Linked DNA regions of Homo sapiens. The protein of the gene in region 1 interacts with the protein of each later gene in a pairwise test. Each region holds a gene or a part of one and is shown in the gene's direction. Other genes may lie near its edges.

The links.
Region 2: the proteins of FSD2 (region 1) and ZSCAN26 interact in binary tests that used the Homo sapiens proteins (3 or more experiments, as listed by UniProt).

The regions. Positions count from the first base shown.
Region 1 is NC_000015.10:82,754,076-82,762,329, reverse strand, and holds the end of FSD2 (fibronectin type III and SPRY domain-containing protein 2), read left to right. Parts: intron 1-51; coding exon 52-228; intron 229-2,729; coding exon 2,730-2,982; 3' UTR 2,983-6,968; downstream 6,969-8,254.
Region 2 is NC_000006.12:28,263,167-28,271,165, forward strand, and holds the start of ZSCAN26 (zinc finger and SCAN domain-containing protein 26), read left to right. Parts: upstream 1-3,976; 5' UTR 3,977-4,047; exon of another isoform or gene 4,048-4,287; intron 4,288-7,999. UniProt on the Homo sapiens protein: May be involved in transcriptional regulation.

The DNA.
Region 1 (8,254 bases):
GCCAGGCTTGGGGCACCCCAGATCACACATGCTTCCACTTTCTAAAACCAGGTGTGTTGCTGTCATGGGAAATCTAATTCCAGTCCGAGGGCACCATTACTGGGAGGTGGAGGTGGATGAGCATTTGGACTACAGAGTTGGTGTGGCCTTTGCAGATGTCCGTAAACAGGAGGATCTGGGAGCAAATTGCCTCTCCTGGTGCATGAGGCACACATTTGCATCATCAAGGTAAAGTAAAATCTGGATACTCACAATTAAAATTTGCTTTTGAAAGATTACAGCAAGACCTTTTCACTAGCAATAATTAAGACACACGTTATATTTTACAAATATTTTAAGATATTTCAGGAGTTGCTGCCAGCCACTTTCCCTAAAGTCCAAGTAAGAGGAGAAAGAGCAGCTTTTCTTCAACTAAAAATAGCTAAAATTTATGGAGAATTATGTGCCAAGTACTCTTACATGCATTATCTCATTTACTTCTCACAATTGTGTTATCTCATTTGAAAAATCAGAATGCTGGGTGCAGTGGTGTGCACCTGTAGTCCCAGCTACTCAGGAGAGTGAGGTAGGAGTATTGTTTGAGCCCTGGACTTCAAAGCCAGCTTGGGCAACATAGCAAGACCCCGTCTCTAAAAAAAAAAAAATAATAAAATAAAAAAATAAAATAAAATAAAAGAATAAAAATAAGAAGACCACACCTCACAGCAATTAGATAATCCAAACGACATGGATTTGGAACTTGGATTCAAACTCAAGCAGTCTGGTTCCAAAGATTTCATTCCTAACCACTTAAGTGATAGATTTTTCATTTCTGTTCACCTTTAGTATTAAGCCAATACAGTTTGCTTTGAAGCCCCAGTTCCATCTTTTTAAGTAAATGTGGGCAAGAGGCTTAGTAGTTATGGCTAATTCTGGTTTGCTCCTGCTGCTGGGCACTCTGTCTTTACACATGGAGTAGTTCCATATAGTGGGAAAAAAAGTCTCACGAAGCCCAGGCCAATGAATACACTTTCAGACTTAGAAGGCCATGGTTACAACCTTCCTTCACCTCAAAAACTGAAAAACAAGACCCCACACTGCTTTCCTATCACACCTTGTAAAATGGGGCCTCTGACCCTCCTTGATTTGATGAATCCTATTAATGTTCATCCAATGCTCTCTGCCCATGATCCTCTATCATGGTTATTTACACATTATGTGTCATGCCCAAGCATAAGTGGGAAAACCAACTTCCCCTCCGATAACAGATGAAGACTCTAATGAAATCTACTAAACCTCACACCCAGTTTGGGGAATCCAAGAATTACTATACACTGAGGCAGATACTTTATTTGGGGATTCTGCCTGAAGTAAGACTAAAGAGCAAAGTCTCTTCTTTAGAAAGGCAAGAACAAGGGGCAGAGTAAAACTAAGGGAGCATAAAGAAAGCCTAGAAGTCCACGTGTAGAGGGAAGAATAAAGGGGGTAAGAAGACACAATAGAAGAGGGGTGGAAACAGAAGAATGACAAAAGAAGGGCAAAAGCTACAGTCCAAGTGCTAGAGCCAAGCCAGTTTCTTACAGATGTAGGGTGTGTGTGTGTGTGTGTGTGCGTGCACGCACACACGTGCACACACGTTACAAGTGGAGAATGAAGGTAAGGTATCCTAGGATAAGGTCTCCTAGCAGACTTGCATTTTTGGCTCATAGTATTAGACTTTATTGGTGGTAGCATAGAAAGTAGAAGAAACGACTCATAGCTTCTGGCAGCTGCTTAGTTAAATTAAGGTGAAATGGGCTAGAGACAGGCAGGCTTCCTCTGACACGTTTAGATCATATTCCAAGTGTTTATCCCAGTAGCCTAGACTAGCCTGTTGACACAAAGAGCTCTTCAAATATCTGTAGGTAGCAGGGTTAGGAAATTCCTGTGACAGGTTTTCATTTCTGCCATTTTTCAAAGTACACAGGATGTAGAGCATGGATAGTGATATAGTATTGATTGGTAACAGGCCCACTGGCTCCCCACTCAATATGAAAGTTTAAGAACTGGAGTAACTGTGCATAGAAGAGCTTATACCAAGAAGCCCATTTTATCACATGGAAAATCACAAGGTTCCCTGTTTCAAATGTCTAATCCAAATTTTAAAAACATGTTCTATTCCTATGCTAGTTTAGATGAAAGAGAGTTCAGGATGCTATAGGTAAATTTCTTAGGTTAAGAGGTTGCTAGAGAAAAAATGATGTTTGAAAAATGTTTCGGCCAGAAGCAGTGGCTCACACTTGTAATCCCAGCACTTTGGGAGGCCAAGGCAAGTGGACTGCCTGAGCTCAGGAGTTCGAGACCAGCCTGGGCAACACAGTGAAACCCTGTCTCTACTAAAAATACAAAAATTAGCCGGGCTTGGTGGTGCACGCCTGTAATCCCAGCTACTCAGGAGGCTAAGGTGGGAGAATTGCTTGAACCCAGGAGGCTGAGGTTGCAGTGAGCCGAGATTGCACCACTGCACTCCAGCCTGGGTGACAGAGCAAGACTCCATCTAAAAAAAAAAAAGAAAATGTTTCTTAGGACAAATTTTAGAAAAGAGATAGTTTAGAGAGTATAGTTTTAGAAATGGCTTGTCACCTTGGTAGTCATTTAATACTAGAAAATAGCAAAATCATAGGACTATGAATAAAATTAGTATGAAATGTTCTATAAATAGTCAATCTATAGAATTACTGAAACTTTATTATGTCAAATTTAATTTTCAGGCATAAGTATGAATTTCTGCACAACAGAACAACTCCAGATATAAGAATAACAGTTCCACCAAAGAAGATTGGCATTCTATTAGACTATGAACATTCAAAGTTGTCATTTTTCAATGTGGACCTTTCTCAGCATCTATATACATTTAGTTGTCAGCTTCACGAATTTGTGCATCCCTGTTTTTCTTTGGAAAAGCCTGGGTGTCTAAAGGTACATAATGGCATTTCAATGCCAAAACATGTCACTTTCTATTAGAACATTCTGATGTCCAGTTTCCTGTCTTCCATGCCTACCCCTCTCGCAGCTGCTCACGCCTTAGCTGGCTGAACCTGGCACTTAAGCACCATGTGCCCAGCACAATTTATGGCTCATGCTATTATCTGACTGGTGTGCTAGCGCTCATTTCACCCAACCTGGATTCTAGTCCTGTGTGCTGCTACCTGTGTGCTGCTAGGATAGTCATTACCAGGCCCAGCTGTAAAATAAAGGCTCAGACTAAACGAACTCAAAAGTCTTTGAAGCTGTCAAACTATATTCGTGTATATGCAAAATATCTTGAGTTTCCAAGACCTAGAGAGCTTGGGAGAGGACGAGGGTAGTCTTAATGGCTCCAGCAGCACCAGTACACCCATGCATTTCATGAGTCAGCCAAGAATACACTTGAGAAGGCGAGAGGCTGTCTGTAGAGAACCAGGGAAGCTGTGTGCCCTTCTCAATGTCTTCTACCCTCGTTTTCCCAATAGTGAGCAGCACTGTGGTGAGGTCCCTTCCACTGTGTACTCTGCATACAGGGTATTCCCTGTTCCACTCCTACACAGTATGCACCACTCTCTAATTTTGAAATTACCTCTATAATGCCTAATTCCATGAAGGGAGGGACAGTGCCTGTTTTGTTCATTGCTAGATCACCAAGGGCTAACACATAACAGCTGTCACCAAGTATTTGTTGAATAAATTAGTATCTTCTTCAGCCACTGCTCTTTGGCCTCTTACTGCTCTCCATGTGAAGGATGGCAGGGCTCTTTCAAAACTACAGCAAAGGACCTATGGCCAAGAAATGGGAAAAAACCTAGAATGGAGGCAGCGTGAAAGAACAGAAGGGCATCTGTGGCATATTAGCAAATGCACAACAATTTTTTAAAAGAAATTAACAGCCCACCAAAGGGCAAAGCTGAGCACGGGAAGGAAGACTGATCTCTAGCTAGGCAGCTTTCAGGCATCCTGCCTCACTGCCCCCAGGCCATTCTGTGAGCTCAATGCCCAACTCCATCAGCTACATTCCTGGTTCTCCTGTTCAAGTTTCCAGTTGCCACTTAAGCTCTGCACACACAGCATTTTCAAAGCTTGTGAGTGAAGCTGCAGAATAATTCCATTTGTGAAGCAATTACAATTCAGTATCATGTCCCACAGATGCCTCTAAACCCAGATATGCCCTAATCTCATCATTTAAGGTTTTGTGTTTAAAAAAAAAAAGTCCACTTTTCTTTTTTCTGGCGAAACCCCGTCTCTACTAAAAATACAAAAAATTAGCCGGGCATGGTGGTGGGCGCCTGTAATCCCAGCTACTCAGGAGGCTGAGGCAGGAGAATTGCTTGAACCCGGGGGCAGAGGCTGCAGTGAGCCGAGATTGTGCCACTGCACTCCAGCCTTGGCAACAAGAGCGCAACTCTGTCTCAAAAACAAACAAACAAACAAACAAAAAACCTCTGATGTTTTCCAGCACCTGCAAAGTCTGACAAACTGAAAGACTCTCATCTCCTACTAAACTCTGCCTACTCGTATAAATGGCAGCTCAGATTCCTGAATTAACAATTCACACTGACAATTTAATAACTCGTTATACACACACACACCTATCCTGCCAAGCTGGACTGTCTACTCTGAAACAAGGGACAGCAGATGTAAGCACAGAAATAGTTCCAGTTATAAACAATTAAAAGATACATATCATGTATATTTAAAAATGTTCTCGGCCGGGCGCGGTGGCTCACGCCTGTAATCCCAGCACTTTGGGGGGCCAAGGTGGATGGATCACAAGGTCAGGAGATCGAGACCATCCTGGCTAATACGGTGAAACCCCGTCTCTACTAAAAATACAAAAAAATTAGCCGGGACTGGTGGCGGGCGCCTGTAGTCCCAGCTACTCGGGAGGCTGAGGCAGGAGAATGGCGTGAACCCGGGAGGTGGAGCTTGCAGTGAGCCGAGATGGCTCACAGATCAAGACTCCATCTCAAAAAAAAAAAAAAAAAAAGTTCTCAGCTACTGAAATAGAAACTACCAAGTAAGAAACAGGATATCACAGAGAAGGCAAGTTTGAATTCAGGGTTCTAATAGGCTTTATGGAATACTACACGTTAGTATGAACACGGATAAATGGATTAAAAACTCAACACGTATAAAGTTTTAATTAAATTTTTATTTGACCAAGAAAAAACTGTCTAGAATTGCCTGACATTTAAAATCCACTTAAAGCAGATTAGCAACTTCAAGCATCACAATTATTCAGCATAAAGAGCCTTTGTTGAAACATCTTTCTCATTTATTTAGAAGAAAACATCTAGAACAGAACCAAGCAAAACTTTTGTATTTTTGTAAAAAATCTCAATTCCTGAAACTACTATAAACAATCTACTGAAACTGTATTCAGCAAGGGACAGATTTACCTCAAGGCCATGTTCACCTGCAACCTGCTGATAAGTCTGTTAAAAAACAAAGCAAAAAAAAGAGTTTTTAAAAATTAGACCACTGTAGCCACAATCCCTAACACTGGACAGTTAAAACAAAAGTTATCAAAATCTGTTCTTTTCTTAGCTTTACCTGTATCACTTTATAACTCCTGAGAAAGTCATTCACATAAGCTGTGGCCTCCCCACCTTAACAAAGGGGAAAAAGAATATGTAAAACCACCACAGAATCTTGGCGTAAACTAACATGGGTTTAGTAATACAGAGTACAGTATTCAGGATTTAAGGCACCCTTACAAGTCAGAATTGGAAAGTTGGTTTGAGACTTGCAATCTAAAATGACACTGATTTCTGATAAAATTAAATGACTTTTATTTAGAAAAGTGTGTTTAATAAATTACTTCCTGCTGGTTCAAATGACACACAATCACTTTGTATACATCCAATAAGATATTTCTGAAGTGTATACTTGGTCAAAAGTAAAAAGCAGAGCAAATGCATGGACAGTGGGGCCTTCTTCTTAATACTTCTCATCCTCCAAAATCTGTTAAAATCATCATCTTCCACAACTCACACACTGGAAGCTGTCCACAGCACAATTCACTGTGATGTGGCATTCTGTAAATAAGACTACATTGGTCTTGATGCAAGGCGGTTCAGCTACCAGACTGCACTATAAGAAAAGTCCTCTCCTCAACTTACCAAGAAAACTTCGCCAATTTCTAGTCACCTTCCTATCAATTAGTAGAGCAAGATTCTCACATGTTCACTATGTCTTTCTCCAGTTTTCTCATCTATAAGTGTACTACTCCTATTTTCTATAGGAAGACAATGGAAAGCGTGTAATTGCTGTTGGTAGATAAGTAGGTCTTGAATTTATTTTGCAAACAAGACCTGTTCTATCTACCTTTTCATTTAGGAGGCTAAAAGCAGAGTCAGCTTGATTTCAAGGACTCTATTTTCTTAGTCTCCAGAAGAACATAACCAAATCCAGCTTTTAAAACACTGTCCTTTAACAAGTCAAGATACTCAAATAAAGATCATGTATAACTTCAAGCTATAGGAGATTAACTCTGTACATATGCTTGTTTCACTGTAACCAATGGTTAATTAATCTAAATGCAAGAGAAAAGTTATTTGGAAAGAAGACCCCAGCTGGTCAGCATCTTTTCTGTCATCAGGAAGTCTCCTGGAAGGAGTATGACTATGACCTGGGCACAACAACTGCCCCTAAGTTAGTACTTATTTTAGAGTTGCTACTGAACAGGTGGTGGTTCTTGTCAAGTATATCATGTCTGACTACTTTACTGCTTGTTTTCTGCTATCACCAGTTCCAGAAAAAAAAAAAAAAAAAATTAAGCCCAACTCACTAATTGATTGCTTTTTCATTTTCCCAGACTGTGACAGAATCATGGTTTTTAGCTCTATTTTCACCTTACTCAAATCCTGGAGGAATTAAACTATCATTTATTTGAAATGTTACAAATTAGCCTGCAGTTGATTCAAACAACATGTAGTCACTCAGACATAGCAAATAAAAATGTTTTGGTATATGAACTTGGATTCTAATCTTGCTGTCTCTACTACTCTCATTCCTAAGTATAAATGTTAGGTCTCTTGCTTGAAAGGAATTTAAGAGATGCCCTTAAATTCAAACAGACTGGCTCGCAGAAAGGAATATAATCCATTCACTGGGAAAGTACACAGCCAACAAAACTGAGATTTCCCAACTATGCACTGTAACAATGCAGAAACACAGTTTTAGAGATGGCTTTACTGGGTATATACATCGCTCTTGGTAGACCCATCTATTATTCTGCCACCCAGAAAGATTCTTACCCTCCTACTTCCTTCCAAACATTCATTTAATTTAAAGGTGACAGGGACAGGGAGAGGGAAGGAAAAAACAAGAAGCACTATCCAAAAGTAAGAACAGTACTCTGGAGAAAGGTAAAAGATACTCAACACTGTTTTTTGTACCATTTACGATTTATAAATCAGCCACAGAGTCCTAGGCACCCAGAATGGACCTCCCCTTCCTTGTCTACCTAATGCCTGTATAGCTCCAAAATCACCTCTTGGAAACACTGCCTTATTCCTCCCCCTCCCAGGAGAGGTTAAGTGCCACACTCACCTCTTTTAGATTACTTCAGTGGCTATACTGCAATCATTGACTTGTGTCTGCTCCACTTGACTATAAGCAAATTGAAGGCAGGGTTTGTGCCTTCATAATCTCTGAATGATCTGAAGATGGAAATAACTGCTTTGTGCTTTCAGGGAGCTCATATACCTGCAAAGAGAAAAGAGACATCAAATTATCTTCCAAAATCAAAGGAAAAGCCTCTTTATTAGAAAGCAAAGCAGCTTTCAAATTTGTGTGTGCTTGGGGAGTAGAAGGAAACATTAAAAATATGAACCTGCTGGGCATGGTGGCTCACACCTGTAATCCCAACATTTTGGGAGGCCAAGACAGGCAGATCACCTGAGGTCAGGAGTTCGAGACCAGCCTAGCCAACATGATGAAACCCCGTCTCTACTAAAAATACAAAAATTAGCCGGGCATGGTGGTGGGCGCATGTAATCCCAGCTACTCAGGAGGCTGAGGCAGGAGAATTGCTTGAACCAGGGAGGCGGAGATTGTAGTGAGCCAAGATCACGCCATAGCACTCCAGCCTGGGCAACAAGAGTGAAAACTCCGTCTCAAAAAAAACAAACAACCCCAAAATATCAACCTTTCTTCTGTCCCAATACACCTTAAAGATCTGATACAGAGTCCCATTACTAATAGTGCTCCATGGTGACTTCTAATCTGGGAAGAGTGGGAGGGGACACAGAACAATCTG
Region 2 (7,999 bases), on another chromosome or scaffold:
ATAGAATTTTACATTTTACTGGGGGAGACAGACTTATAAAAGCCAACAGGCAAAAATTACAAATTACAGTATGATGTGAAAAAAGTAACGGGCTAGAGACAGAATTGGGGGGAACTTTTTTGATATAGTGGTCAAGGAAAGACTAAGAATGCCAGATTTAAGCTGTGTGTGCTTTTAAATTTTAGTAGATATTGCAACACCACCTTCTATGTTTACACACTCACCAACATCATCACCAATATTGTATTTTCAAACCTTTTGATCTTTCCCAATCTAAGGTGAAAATGGCATTTTATTTGTATTTATTATTAAAAGTAAGATAGAGCATCCTTTCATAGATGTATTTACGAGTCTTTTGAAATTCTTTTGTGTGTATGTGAACTGCTCCTCTGATAACCTTTGTCCACTCTTCTATAGCGTTGTTGGTCTTTTTTCTTAACTGGTCATAAAAACTCTTTAATAAATTAGATCTTTATCAAATATCTTGCAAATATATCTCCGTGTTATTTACCTTTGACTTGTTTTTCTGAGAGACACTTGACTGTAATGCCCGTTAAAGCCTAAAAAGGTTTTCTAACAGTGGCCAAACAAATATCTTTATCTTTCTCGCTTGGAAGAAGATGCAGCTGAGAAACTGACTTCTAAGTAAGCCAAGGTAAGATCGGTGAGCTTCTTTCCCAGAAAGATAAAATACACACCATGCAACAAATAGTATGTCTAATGCCTACAGTGGAATACTCATGATAGCTTTTTTGCTGTAGTTATGCTTAACTTGCCATTTAATGTTGCTATTAGAGAGGGACTTGGCCAATAAATCTGCCTTAAAAGAGATTTCAAGAGTTGGAATATGACTGCAGATCACTGTTGTCTCAGGGGAGCTAATAAAAAGGGTTACAACTTTTCCTTTGAAGTAGTTTTGCCCAGAGTATGTAGCTATGGATTGTGAAATAGAAGAAAAACAGTATAACGAAAATTTTGTATTACGTTTACATTTCAAGAAACCATCAGAATCACTTTATTATTTCACTCTGCTCAAGCAGGAAGTTGAACAGATCAAATAACTTGTCTTAGCCACTAGAGTTACACTGAGTTTTATTCAGTGCTGAGAAACAGCCTAAGAAAGCAAACTAGTGAGGCTGTGCTGATTTACAATTGATACATTTTATGAAATAGCATTAATGTTCTCACAGACCATCATTATATGACTTTGTGGAATTATCAAAAGTAGTGTTTCACAAAATATAAAAATCTCCCACTGGCATAAGGGGTCTAATGTGTATTTCATGTTTGTTTGTTTTAAAGTTCTGTAGCACAAGGGAAGGTGTTTCTTAACCTTAGCCACCAGCAATTTAGGGAGTAAGAAATCATACATTTAGCAAAATTGCTCTTTTTATTCTTAGCCTAACGAATTCAGCTAGACTTTAATCTGAATTTATGGGGGATATGTCTAAGATTTCACCATCAAATATAAGGGAGGTTTTTGGTATATTTGAGATGTATTTATTTTTGCCTTATAAAGGAATCATCCATCTATTTATTTTTTATTAGGAGTTTCTGCTTTTAGTCAGAAATATATGTTGAGTTTTATGAAATGACATTGTAGCATTTGTGGAGATTATATGATTTTTCTTTATCAGCCTAATATGGGTGACTTAAAGTTATAGGTTCCTAATATTAAGCTATAAATTTGTTAGATTCATTTGTAGGCTTTGATTGTTTAGAACGATCACTGGACAAATAACTTATTTTAAAACTCAGAGTAATGAATGAGACCTTGCTGTATACGTATAAGAAGCAGAGAGAAGAGCAGGAAGCATCATTACCAGAAGATAAGAACTGTAAATCTTATGCTGGAGCATGGTGACATGACTCATAATGCGATAGCATCTCTACTGATAATATGGAAAAGAAAGTTCTTATCTTGAATATCGTATGAATGGACCTGGCAGAAACATGATCACTATAGTTTACAAAAATAAGGATAATCCTGGAAAATGAAAACCTCAAGTTTGAAAATTGATTTGTATTTTAGTATTTTGTCTCTCCTGGTGATAACAGTGTTTTGAGTTATTCTCACCTTATCTACCCCTACCCCTCCCAAAAGGTACAAACAGACTGTTTAAATGAAAAATGCACACCTTGAAAATTTAAAAAAACTCTTCTTTGTCTAGCTACTTTAAAGGTTTTGATTTTCATGGGATATCCAGTGCAATGGCAATAATCTCAGCCTTGACAATAAAAGTGACAGATTTAAGAAACTAGTCATAGTAGGGAATTTTAGAGGGGGAGTAAATAGGATATAGTATTTACTTTCTATTTAAATTAAATTTTCTTTATGTTTATCCCTTATATAATTTTTGAAAAGGTCCTTTTCTAGATATTAAAAAATAAGATATATGAGTTTTCCTCTCAAGAAAGAATATTGACTTCTAATTAGTAACACATATTGACTAGATTTGTTGGCCTTATGAAAAGTTTTAAAGTAAACATATTTAATTTTTACTTTAAAAATATGCTTTCAAAGATACATTCAGACACTTAAGAAGAAAAGATAACTGCTTGTGATAATGAAACTGGTTGTTTTTTTTCTGTTATGATAATTTCAATGCTTGAAACACTGAATAAATTACACGTCAGTACAATGTTTTGTATATTTAATGATATTTCAAAGCTTCTGTCAACTGATCAGTTAAACACAAAAGTTTGTTCAGATTTTTTAAAGGTTTTTTTTTCTTTCTTCCAACTTTTGTTTTAGGTTCAGTGGGTACATGTGCAGGTATGTTACATGAATAAAGTGCATACTGCTGGGGTTTGGTGTACAAATGATTTTGTCACCAAAGTGGTAGCATAGTACCTTATAGGTAACTTTTCAATCTTCACCTTCCTCTCACCCTCCACCCTCAAGAAGTCCTTGTGTCTGTTGTTCCCATTTGTGTTCATGTTTACTGAATGTTTAGCACCCACTTATAAGTAAGAACATGCAGTATTTGGTTTTCTGTTCCTGTGTTAATTGGCTTAGGATAAATGGCCTCCAGCTGCATCCATGTTGCTGCAAAGGACATGATCTCATTCTTTTAGCTGCATGATATTCCATGGTGTTATGTACCACATTTTCTTTTTCCAGTCCACCACTGATGGGCATCTAGGTTGATTCCATGTTTCTGCTATTGTGAAAAGTGCTGTGATGAACATACACATGCATGGTCTTTATGGTAGAACAGTATATTCCTCTGGGTATATACCCAATAATGGAATTGCTGGGTCAAATGAGAGCTCTGTTTTAAGTTCCTTAAGAAATTTCCAAATTGCTTTCCACAGTGGCAGAACTAATTTACATTCCCACTAGCAATGTATAAGCATTCAAAGAGTTTATCTTATTCAAAAACTATAAAAACCCAGTTTGTGATACTGTGGGCAAGAGAGACTATTTCTGTTCTCTGTTGTAGAATTTATTTTGATAAAGTGATATCTGTTGCTTTTATTCCCCCTGAAACTTACATTGATTGCAAAGTGTTGTTGATTTATTTTCTCTCACAGTAATAGCCCTAATTTCTTCTTACCTTAAACCTTTCAATCCAAACGTATGTCCATTGTTTAGTTTAATTTTCGAAATACTTTGACAATTATTTTTGCCATTGTGTTTGATGAATTTCTAAATTGCGAAAAATGGCGAAGTATGTGTGTTTTATTTATGTGAGCAAAGTGAAAATGTTGGCTGTTTGTGATAACACTCAACGGAGCTGGCCTGTTTTTACATGAATAAAATAAACATCCACTTTAAAATGAGAAAACAAAAACAAAAACAGAAACAAAAAAAAAACCCCAACAATCTTAGCTCACAACGAAATGACCCTCCCAGCCGTCCTCAGCAGGCAGCACCCATGTTAGTCTCCTTCTGCGATGCCTAAGCGGCAGCACCATCGAGCCAAGGTCCTCCAGCGTTCCTAGAGCGGAGAAGAAAGCGCTCCGAAGAGCTAGAGCTGACACTCGGCGATGAGCTAAGACGCTGTTTCAGAGCGTTTGGGTCCTCTGAGGCCCCTTGACCAGGTGAGCGGACCCTGGAGCTGGGCCCCGGGCTGGGGCGGAACTGCGGCCTAGGGGCCTAGGGAGCAGCTGCTTCCCGGCGGGTGCAGAGAATCTTCCCTCGACCGAGGGGGCGGGGTCCGTAGCGGAGGTGTCGGCCCTGGGGCCTATGAGAGTGATGAAGCTGTGGATCTGGTAAACAGAGTACAACCTTCTGCTGCATATTTTTCATCCATTCAGCGCAATTTTAAGTAGATATTAAAGGTAGGCGCCACCGAGAAGGTAATATTTGAGCAGAAATCTGAAGGAGGTGGGTGGAAAGACCTAAGTGGCTTTTGCGGTCAGGAACTTTCTAGGTAGAGGGAATAGCAAGTGCAAAGGTCTTAAAGCAGGAGCTTGCTTGGCATATTTGAGGAATAACGGGGAGACCAGAGCGGTTGGAGCAGTGAACAAAGGCGACCTTTGTAGGGAATGATGTCAGAGAGATTGGGGTATGGAGAGGAAGAGTGTAGAGGAAATGAGAACTGTATCGTGTAAGGAATTTTGTCTTTTTTTGGTGTGTGTTTTTGGAGGATTTTGAGCAGAAGAAAACATGATCTGACTTATGTTTTAAAGCTTCTTTACTTGGAGACTCATGATGATAATAGATTGTAAGTGGGCAAGAATGGAATCAAGAAAACTTAAAAGTTAAGAGTAATTTTTTAAAATTCCAAGTAATTCAGGTGGGAGATAAGGATATCTTGAGCCAGTGATCAGATTATGATCTGCTTTGAAAATAGAGACAATAATATTTGCTACTGGGTCAGATGTAGGGTGTGACAGTAAGAAGGCAAATATAAATCCAAGGTTTTGGGCCTGTGGGTGCAAGAGATACTGGAGAAAAGATCTGAGGTTTAGCTTTGGTACCTCGTGTAAGTTCTTCAACTCTCCCCGTCTCAATTTCCTTCTCTGCACGAAGAAATTAGGAATAGTGTCTTCTTTATAGGGTTGTGTGAGGGTTAAATAATTAATATATGTGAAACATGTAGTATAGTTGTCCTGGCTCATTGTTTTATTATGCTGAGACATGAAGTGTGAGTGGGCATTAACAAGAAGAAAATTGGAGGGTTGGAGGGTGGTCCAAGCAGAAGGAATAAGCTGTGGAAGGGCCAAGGAGCAAGAAGGAGTATTGCAAATTTGATGAAATAAAGTACTTTATTAGATCAAAAAACAATGTAAACCATATTAAATGTTTTGAACTTGATCCTAAGGGTAATAATCAGCCATTATATGTAACAGGCATAGCAGGGACATAATAATATTTCATATCCTCCTTAGAATGATCACTGTTTGCGTGTGGAAAATAGATTGGTGTCTCAGACCAGTCTGTTTGTCACAGTGGTCTAGGTAGGAGAAGACAATGGCAAAGGGGATGAGAAGTGGATTGATTTGAGAGATATTTAAGCAATAGAATCAATAGAACTTGATTGATCAGATACATGAGATATGAAAGGAGGAAGGAATGGTCAGTTTTCTGGCTCAAATAGCTGGGTAGATGGAGCTCCTCCCAAAACAGTTTATCAAATTATTTATTATATATTGTGTTTGATATATTTAATCACATTATAGAAATGAACTCACCACTAATTCAGCCTCATACCCAGCCAGGCACGGTGGCTCATGCCTGTAATCCCAGCACTTCGGGAGGCTGAGGACGGTGGATCACTTGAGGTCAGGAATTCGAGACCAGCTTGGCCAACATGGTGAAACACTGTCTCTGCTAAAATTACAAAAATTAGCTGGGTGTCATGGCAGGCATTTGTAATCCCAGCTATTCGGGAGGCTGAGGGAGGAGAATCACTTGAACCCGGGAGGCGGAGGTTGCAGTAAGCCAAGATTGCGCTGCTGTACTCCAGCCTGGGCAACAGAGGCAGACTCCATTTCAAAGAAAAAAAAAAAACACATCATACCCTATATATACATATCAACATCATACCACATGTTTATTTATATACCAATACTGATATAGATACCAGTATATATATATGTATGTGGCATAGATATATACTGATATGGGTATAGATATCTCTATAGATATAATAATATGAATACAGGTATATATAAAAAATACGAATACAGGTATATATACCTAAACAATAATACGAATTATGTATATATATACATATGCCTGTATTTGTGTCATTATTTGTATAACTAGGGTATCTATATCGGTAAAGATAGGTAGAGATCTAGAAAGAGATTTACTATAGGGAATTAGCATAGGTCATTATGGAGGCTGGCAAGTCTCAGTATCTTCAGAGTGAGTTTTCAGGCTGGAGACCCAGGAGAGCAAATGGTTTAGTTCCAGCTCAAGCCCAAAGGCCTGAGAACCAGGAGAGCTGATGGTGTAGTTCCTGTCTGAAGGCCATAGGCTTGAGATTCAGTAAGAGCTGTTTTAGTTCCAAGTCTGATGGCAAGAAAAAAGCTGATGATTCAGTTTGAAGCATTTTAGACAGGAAGAATTCTCTTACTCAGGGATGAGTCAGCCTTTTTGTTCTAGTCAGACTTTTAACTGCTTGGATGAGGCCCACCAACATTATGGAGGGCAGTCTGTTTTAGTCAACAGTCTACCAATTTAAATGTTAATCTCATTCCAAAAACACCCTCACAGAAACATCCAGAATAATGTTTGACCAAATATCTGAGCACCCTGTGGCCAGTTAAGTTGACACATAAAATTAACCATTACAATACCAATCTTTTATTTTCTGGCTAATAATCATCACTTTTTTTGAGACAGAGTCTCACTCTGTCGCCCAGGCTGGAGTGCAGTGGTGTGATCTCAGCTCACTGCAACCTCCACCTCCTGGGTTCAAGTGATTCTCCTGCCTTAGCCTCCCGAGTAGCTAGGACTACAGGCGTGTGCCACCACACCCGGCTCATTTTTTGTATTTTTAGTAGACACGGGGTTTCACTGATAATCATCACTTTCTTGGACTTTTTTACTTATATTAAGAATACTAGGAATTGGCTTTTTAAAGTTTAAGTTCATTTTGACTAAGAAAAATAATTATCAGCTGGGAAATGTTAACTATATACACATTCAGGAATATATAACAGCAAACTGTTTGGAGGCTAAGCCACTGATTAAGTGAGCCTTCTCCCGTTCTCCCACTTACCGCATGCACATTGATTCAAAGGCATGTGTCAGCAGCTGACAGATGGTGTTTCACTGATCTATAGGGATACTCAAGCATAGTCAAAATCAAGAATGCTAAATCCCCACATACCAAGGGCCTGCCCCAAAGGATGGTAGGGAATTGTCTGAGTTCATTTTTGACATGTTGGATTTGAGAGGCTTCTGTAGGGTATCCTGGTCCCAAATAGGCAGAAGGAAATTCAGGTCTGACACTTGAGATATCTGACCTGAAGAATAAGGAAATCATCAGCATAAGGACAGTAATTGAAGTCACAAAAATACTTATACTCTACATTAGCCCTTTCTAGTTTCTGCCCTATCTTTCTTGTTCCATTCAATGTATTACTTTTTTGAAATTTGTCATTTATGCTCACTCTCCATTTTCTCATTTCCTATGGCAGGCTAGCTATTCTCACTACCAAAATTACCTTCACAGAGGTCACTAATGACATCTTTGTTTTTGAATCAAGTGTCTATGCCAGGTCTTAGATTAATTCACCATCTTATAGCATTTCACACTCTTGAACACTGTGCTCATATCATTTCCCTTATAAATCAGTGAATTCCTTCTGTTCTTTAGAATTATCTCATTTACCTCAAAACTTCTGTGAATTAGGTATTATCTTCATTTTACAAATGAGTAAACTAAGTCCAAAAGGATAAGTTACTTGCCCCAGGTCACAACATGTAAGTGACAGGGCTGGATTGGAACCCAGGCCTGTCTAAGGCCCAGGGTCTTTCCACCATTCCACATTTACAGAAATAGACCTCCTTGACCTTCTGGATACTATTGTCTTT